2 linked regions of the Homo sapiens genome follow. Changing the gene in region 1 together with any one later gene gives a genetic interaction. Each region holds a gene or a part of one and is shown on either strand. Other genes may lie near its edges. The genes, in order: ATG9A and GBF1.

Region 1 (3,810 bases):
GATAGCCACTGCACAAGGAAGAGCAGAGTAAGCAGGGCTGTTCTCTTCCAGGAGCCTTCCTGCACCTTTCCTGTTAGTGGGGAGGCCTTACCCTTGGAGAACGGAGACCACAGTATACTGTCAATCTTTCCCAGGGCACTGGTGCCCCCCCAGACCCAGGAGGGGCTGCACTGCATGCTGAGCCAGTTACTTGTGTTGTGCCTTTTTTTTTTTTTTTTTTGAGATGGAGTCTCGCTCTGTCGCCCAGGCTGGATTGCAGTGGCGTGATCTCGGCTCACTGCAAGCTCCGCCTCCCAGGTTCACGCCATTCTCCTGCCTCAGCCTCCCGAGTAGCTGGGACTACAGGCGCCCGCTACCACGCCTGGCTAATTTTTTTGTATTTTTAGTAGAGAAGGGGTTTCACCGTGTTAGCCAGGATGGTCTCGATCTCCTGACCTCGTGATCCACCCGCCTTGGCCTCCCAAAGTGCTGGGATTACAGACGTGAGCCACCGCGCCTGGCCGTGTTGTGCCTTTCTTAAGGGAGCTTGGCCAAGGGTGCGAATTAGGGCTGAAATCCAGCCCAGGCTCCCAAGCAGTGTGCCCCTGGTATAGGACTGCCTTTGTGTGACTCAGGAGAGGTGTCTTTTTGCGGTTTTCCCAAAGACACTGTATGTTCCAGCATCATCCCAGGCCACCTGGCTCCCTCCTCTCCCAGTACCTGGGGATGACCATGCTGGCGAACATCCATCTGAGCAAAGGAGCAGGTATCTCCCACACCAACGACCTCCACGGTGAAGTTTCGGAAGAAGTCTATAATCTCCAGGGCCCGTGGGCGCAGGCAGAAGATGAGGATGAGGGGTGTGACAATGGGGCTCAGCAACTCTTCCAAAATGAACACCTAAAAGGGCGGGACCAAGGTCACAAGCGAGCAGGAGGGAGCCCAGCCCTCACCACCGAGCTACCAGCCAGTCTCTAGCAGGCCCTAACTCCAACTCCACTCACTGCCTTGTACTGGAAGAGCTGGGCAAACTCGTCCCGGGTCTGCGAGCGGTGGGCATTACCCTGCCAGTGGTCAGGCATGTAGTGGATGTGAGCGAGGATCACGCGGAGCAGCTGCTCAGGGCAGAACACCATGTGCTGGTCCGGGATAAAGGACCTAGTGGGATCAGGATCATGGTGAGATGTATGCCTTTCCCAGGAATGCTAGCCGGCTTGCTCCCGCCTGTGGCCCTGGCCCACCTGCACACGGTCACGGTGACCCCCAGGAGTGTGACGGTGGTCAGCACATGTTCCACAGCCAACACATCTTCGTCATAAATGGTGAGGGCAATAAGCACAGCCAGGATGGAGCCAGCGAAGAAGGCTCCATTCTTGGCCAGCAGTGTCAAAAGAGGTGACAAGAAGCAATTCATGTACTTGGAGGCGGGCTTGTAGCCACGGTTGAGGCGGGACTGCAGCTCGTGCTCCAGCTCGTTGAAGTGGCGGAGGTAGCAGCGGCCATAGAGTGACCAGCAGCGTGCTCCCAGGGCCCCCGGCTCCCGCTTCAGCACCTCAGCATAGCTGAAGAAGGCATAGAGGATTTGCCATATGAGGATGAGGGGGCACAGCAGGAAGTTAGCGATGCCAATCCACAGGATGCGGTTGCTGAGGCGCTGGGCCAGCTCTAGCCGTTGCCCCCCACGTTTGTACTCGGCCTTGAGGCTCCATTCATTGAGAAACAGAGAGCCAGGTCCCCAGAAGAGGATCAGCTCAAAGTTGTACTTGAGACCACGGGTGAAGAAGACAGCTTCCCCGAGGCCAGGCAGGCGGAAGCGCAGAGGCAGGAGGGATTTGTTAACCAGTGCCACCATGTAGTTCTGGAAACGGAGGATGCGGTGGTAGATGTCCAGTTCTGTCAGCTCACGTTTGTGGATGCAGATCTGGTGCTCCTTCTGCGTCTGCACGATCCGGGCCTGCACTTCTTGCCACGTGCAATACGGAAGGGCAGACTGCGGGGTGGGGTGGGGAAGAGACAAGGTACGGAAGGTGGGGTTGTTGCCTCGACCCCTTTGCCCTATATTAGAAGTGAGATTCAGGGGTTGTGAGCTTAAGAGACAGTTCCTGATTTGTCAATGACAGATAAGGATAACTGATGCCCAGGAATACACCCACACCTCCCAATACGTCTTAGACTATGGGCTAACTGCCCAACTTCCCAGTCTTACCATAGGGATGCGCAGAGCGTGCAGGTAGAAGGAGTGGATCTCCCAGTAGCAGCAAATGTTATAGATGAACTTGATAAGCCGGTGGATCCAGAAGACACCAGCAATGACCAGGATGGTGATAAGGGAGCCATTTTCCTGAATCCTGGTGGGGAAAAAGAAGGGGAGGAGAGGTGGCCCTCGAGGAAGGAGTCTTGGCAGAGACGCTGCTATCCTGAAGTATTTTTGCTAGACCAAGCCTGAGTCAGTTCTGGAGTATGAGTTGCTGCCTCAGACTCCACTCTATTACCCACCTGCTAGCAGAACTCAAGGCTATGGTGTCCTCTTGACTTGCAGCCCTTACCTGGCACTACAGACTTGAGCAGGCAAAAAGGCGTCTGGCAGAGTGACCTTGACGGGTTCAGTAGGGTGAAGACTGTGGTTCACCATCTTGTTGGCAAATAGGATGTCATAGTCCACGCAGCTGACCAGGAAGGTAGTGAAGGCAACCACAAAGAGGAACTGCCTGGGGAGTTGGGAAGAAGGGGTGCAGTCTGAGAGCCAGAGAGGCTCCAGTGAAACCCAGTGGGAAGAGGAGAGTCTGGAGGTGGCAGAACAAGACTGGGAACTGGAAGGGCCTGGAGAACTCCCAGTGGGCCCTCTCTGCTCCTCAGCCCCACAGGACTGTCTCAGGCCCACTCTTTGCTCTTAGCCTCAGCTGCCACAGCTGCAGCCTACTTTCCTCACCTCATGGTAACCTCAGCCACCACTACTGGACTCTCGAAGGTTTCATCCTGTGGGTCTCTGATCTCCAGTCTCTGATTTCCTTTTGAGGTTGTAGTTAAAAGCCCTTGGGGGAGTTTTCTGATTGAGGGAGGGCTTCCTAACCCCTTCCCCTTCGGCAATGCTATATGGCTTCTCTCTCCCAGGAGGCTCTCTGCCTAGGAGCAGGCCATGGAACAGGCAAGGCAGAACAGAGGCTTTTCTCTGTGGCTGGCATCTCTGAGACCTCCTGACTGAACAATGTACGTTCCATTGGAGCGTTGAGATGATCAAGGTCAAGGCCTGCATTCTTTTTTTTTTTGAGAGAGTCTCACTCTGTCAGCCAGGCTGGAGTGCAGCGGCACAATCTCGGCTCACTGCAACCTCCACCTCCCAGGTTGAAGCGATTCTTGTGCCTCAGCCTCCCAAGTAGCTGGGATTACAGGCGTGTGCCACCACACCCAGCTAATTTTTGTATTTTTAGAGCCTCCTAAAGTGCTGGGATTACAGGTGTGAGCTGCCGTGCCCAACCAAGGCTTGGGTTCTTTTCATGGAAGAGATAAGGCTTGGAAAGCTTTTCTTGTAAGAAAGCTTGGCCGGGCGTGGTGGCTCATGCCTATAATCCCGGCACTTCGGGAGGTTGAGGCGGGCAGATAACCCGAGGTCAGGAGTTCGAGACCAGCCTGGCCAACTTGGTGAAATCCCATCTCTACTAAAAATACAAAAAAAATTAGCCGGGCATGGTGGCACATGCCTGTAGTCCCAGCTACTAAGGAGGCTGAGGCAGGAGAATCACTTGAACCTGGGAGGCAGAGGTTGCACCGAGCCAAGACCACTGCACTCCTGCCTGGGCGACAGAGTGAGACTCACTCCATCTCAAAAAAAAA
Region 2 (3,810 bases), on another chromosome or scaffold:
ACACGGTGAAACCCCGTCTCTACTAAAAATAGAAAAAATAGCTGTGCATGGTGGCAGGCGCCTGTAGTCCCAGCTACTCGGGAGGCTGAGACAGGAGAATGGCGTGAACCCGGGAGGCAGAGCTTGCAGTGAGCCGAGATTATGCCACTGCACTCCAGCCTGGGCGACAGAGCAAGACTCCATCTCAAAAAAAAAAAAAAGAAAGAAAAGAAAAATAACGAAAGTAAAAATGTATTAAATCTGGCCAGACACTATTGCCCAATCAAAGCCTCTGAGCCTGAGGTTTTCTGTTTTAAAAATGAGATTAACAGCCAGGTACAGTGGCTCACACCTGTAATTCCAGCACTTTGGGAGGCTGAGGCGGGAGGATCACTTGAGGCCAGGAGTTCGAGACCAGCCTGGGAAAAATAGCGAGACCCTGCCTCTACAAAAATAAAAATGCAAAAATTATCTGGGCATGGTGGCACACATTGTAGTCCCAGCTACTGGGGAGGCTGAGTAGCTGAGTAGGTGGGAGGATTTCTTGAGCCTAGGAGATCCAGGAGGCAGTGAGCCATGATGGTGCCATGCACTCCAGTTTTGCACAGAGCAAGACCCTGTCTCAAAAAATAAAATAAGAAATAAAATTAGGCCGGGCATGGTATAATCACACCTGTAATCCTAAAACTTTGGGAGGACTATTGCTTGGGCCCAGGAGCTCAAGATCAGCCTGGGCAACATGGCAAAACCCCATCTCTACAAAAATACAAAAAATTAGCTGGCTGTGGCAGCGCACAGCTGTAGTTCCATCTACTCATAAGGCTGAGGTGGGAGGATCACCTGAGCCCAGGAGTTCGAGGCTGCAGCGAGCCGTGATTGTGCCACTGCACTCCAGCCTGGGTGACAGAGTGAGACCCTGCCTCAAAAAATAAAATTAAATTAACAACATGAGGCTTTCTCTGTCATCAGCAGGTGTGAAATAGAATTGAAAAGAAAGTATCTTTCTCACTGTGAGTAAGGATTGTGAAATACTCAGTCCACACACCTCCTAAGGCTCTCTCTCTCATGAGTAATCTCTGACTTGGAGAGTCCTTTACAAGGACTGGAACAACCAGGAAGTCAAGTCAAGGGAAAGAGTAGCGAGGGGGTGAGGTATGGCATGATTGGTGCTAGGGACACCTTGAGGACTTAGTTAGGGACAGTGAGTGGGGAGGGGGAAAGGGATCCACGAGACCTAACCCCACTCACATCCTGCCCCCTCCTGTGATCCTAGTTGCTAGACCTGATGCACACCCTGCACACGCGGGCAGCCTCTATCTACAGCTCATGGGCGGAGGAGCAACGCCACCTGGAGACAGGTGGCCAGAAGATTGAAGCTGATTCTCGCACCCTCTGGGCCCACTGCTGGTGCCCTTTACTGCAGGGTAAACCAGGAGGGGCAGAGGTAGGGAGTTTGGGGAGCATCAGGATCAAGATGCCTGAAGGATCCTGACCCTGCTCTTGCTCTCAGGTATTGCCTGCCTGTGCTGCGATGCCCGGCGCCAGGTACGGATGCAGGCACTGACCTATCTGCAGCGAGCACTACTTGTACATGATCTGCAAAAGCTAGATGCCCTGGAATGGGAGTCCTGTTTTAACAAGGTGGGACTTCCTACTGGTCTTAAGATAAAGTTCAAATCCTAAGAAAAGGAAAGCCAGGCAGCCTGAAGAGCCCCTAATGTGAGTCTTCAGCCTGCATCATACCTTCCCTTCAGCTCTATGCCCATCCAGTTCCTGGCTTCCTTGGGGCAAGGCTGCCTAGCTGAACCTCATAGGGAGACATTGCACATTTACCCCCACCAGGTGCTGTTTCCTCTACTTACCAAGCTCTTGGAGAACATCAGCCCTGCAGATGTGGGTGGGATGGAGGAGACCCGGATGAGGGCTTCCACATTGCTCTCTAAGGTACTGCTCACCACCCTATACCCACCCTCTCTCCCATACCTGCCTTTTCCCGAGGAGGGAAGCCAGGGCTTCTGGCAGGACCTAGAGATGCACTGTAGGTGCTCACAACCCCCCAGCTATGGACACTAAGCAGGACCTAGGGACCTGAGAGGATTCTGAATCTTAAATCAGAGATTCCTCCATCTCTGATCTAAGATTCTCATGCAAGATAGGACAGGCTTAGCTACCCAGCCTCAGAGAGGGGTCCAGAGGCTCCTACAGTCCCCTCAGCTGAAGGGGGCTGGTGGGCCATAGGTCTTCCTGCAGCACCTGTCTCCACTGCTGTCACTCTCTACCTTTGCGGCCCTCTGGCTCACCATCTTGGACTTCATGGACAAGTACATGCACGCAGGCTCCAGCGACTTACTGGTATGTTCTACCTCAGCTCTGCTGCCTGCCTCCTGTCCCACCTGTTGGAAGGACTTGCCCTTTCCCCCTTGGTAGCTACCTCCCTTTACCATACTCCCCCCATGCCCTCTTTCCTATTCTCATGGTCCCACTGCCACCTGCAGTCAGAGGCGATCCCTGAGTCTCTGAAGAACATGCTTCTGGTGATGGACACAGCGGAGATTTTCCACAGTGCAGATGCACGGGGAGGCGGCCCCTCGGCCCTCTGGGAGATCACCTGGGAACGCATTGACTGTTTTCTCCCTCACCTACGAGATGAACTCTTCAAGCAGACCGTCATCCAGGGTAGGGGGCTCAGCCCAGCTTTATCAAAAAGAGTCTCCTGCCTGGGCACAATGGCTCACACCTCTAATCCCAGCACTTTGAGAGGCCGAGGTGGGTGGATCACCCGAGGGCAGGAATTTGAGACCAGCCTGACCAACATAGTGAAACCCCATGTCTACGAAAAATACAAAAATTAGCCAGGTGTGGCGGTGGGTGCCTGTAGTCCCAGCTACTCAGGAGGCTGAAACAGGAGAATCACTTGAACCCGGGAAGTGGAGGTTGCAGTGAGCCGAGATCACAGCCTGAGTGACAGAACGAGATTCCATCTCAAAAAAAAAAAGTCCCCAAAGCTGAATTTATTGTCTGTGCCCTGGGTGGGTAGAAAGGCTGTTGGGTAGCTAGGGCTCTGCTGGAGAGAGAAAGCACTAAGAGGTGCCATCTCAATTCTCTACCGTCTCCAGACCCCATGCCCATGGAGCCTCAAGGCCAAAAGCCTCTCGCCTCAGCCCACCTGACTTCCGCTGCTGGCGACACTAGGACACCTGGCCATCCACCGCCCCCAGAGATTCCATCTGAGCTGGGGGCCTGTGGTGAGTCTCTCTAGCCTAGCCTGATAGGCACTGAGTAGCAAGCAGGGGGCCTAAGAGGAGGCCCAAGGGGGCGTGGGAATGCTGCTGAGCAGGGTCTGTGAGCCGAGGGAAGAAGGCCACTAGAGAGAACTGTTGCCGCTCTTCCCATGGGAAATGACAGGACCATAAGCTATGAGGAACTAGCTGCTTGCAGTCTTCAGGCTTGGGAAGAGAAGGCTGGGTCAGGGACTTGGAATGAATTTGCAGAGGTTTCCTTTCAGGGATTCTAGTAGAGAGTAACCTGGCGGCCAGGCGCAGTGGCTCATACCTGTAATCCCAGCACTTTGGGAGGCTGAGGCAGGTAGATCACCTGAGGTCAGGAGTTTGAAACCAGCCTGGCCAACATGGTGAAACCCCGCCTGTACCAAAAAAATATAAAAATTAGCTGGGCGTGGTAGTGCACACCTATAATCCCAGCTACTGGGGAGGCTGAGGTGGAAGGATCGCTTGAACCCGGGAGGCAGAGGTTGCAGTGAGCTGAGATCATGCCACTGCACTCCAACCTGGGTGATAGTGAGACCCTGTCGCGAAAAAAAAAAAAAAAAAA

The links.
Region 2: changes in ATG9A (region 1) and GBF1 together harm fitness more than expected from each alone (negative genetic interaction), as found in Homo sapiens cells (one study listed by BioGRID).

Annotation. Positions count from the first base shown.
Region 1 is NC_000002.12:219,222,886-219,226,695, forward strand, and holds part of ATG9A (autophagy-related protein 9A), read right to left. Parts: intron 2,688-3,810; coding exon 2,526-2,687; intron 2,328-2,525; coding exon 2,186-2,327; intron 1,970-2,185; coding exon 1,221-1,969; intron 1,138-1,220; coding exon 984-1,137; intron 880-983; coding exon 700-879; intron 9-699; coding exon 1-8. UniProt on the Homo sapiens protein: Phospholipid scramblase involved in autophagy by mediating autophagosomal membrane expansion. Cycles between the preautophagosomal structure/phagophore assembly site (PAS) and the cytoplasmic vesicle pool and supplies membrane for the growing autophagosome.
Region 2 is NC_000010.11:102,378,032-102,381,841, forward strand, and holds part of GBF1 (Golgi-specific brefeldin A-resistance guanine nucleotide exchange factor 1), read left to right. Parts: intron 1-1,252; coding exon 1,253-1,403; intron 1,404-1,489; coding exon 1,490-1,620; coding exon of another isoform or gene 1,621-1,662; exon of another isoform or gene 1,663-1,698; intron 1,699-1,821; coding exon 1,822-1,923; intron 1,924-2,217; coding exon 2,218-2,331; intron 2,332-2,474; coding exon 2,475-2,655; intron 2,656-3,095; coding exon 3,096-3,224; intron 3,225-3,810. UniProt on the Homo sapiens protein: Guanine-nucleotide exchange factor (GEF) for members of the Arf family of small GTPases involved in trafficking in the early secretory pathway; its GEF activity initiates the coating of nascent vesicles via the localized generation of activated ARFs through replacement of GDP with GTP.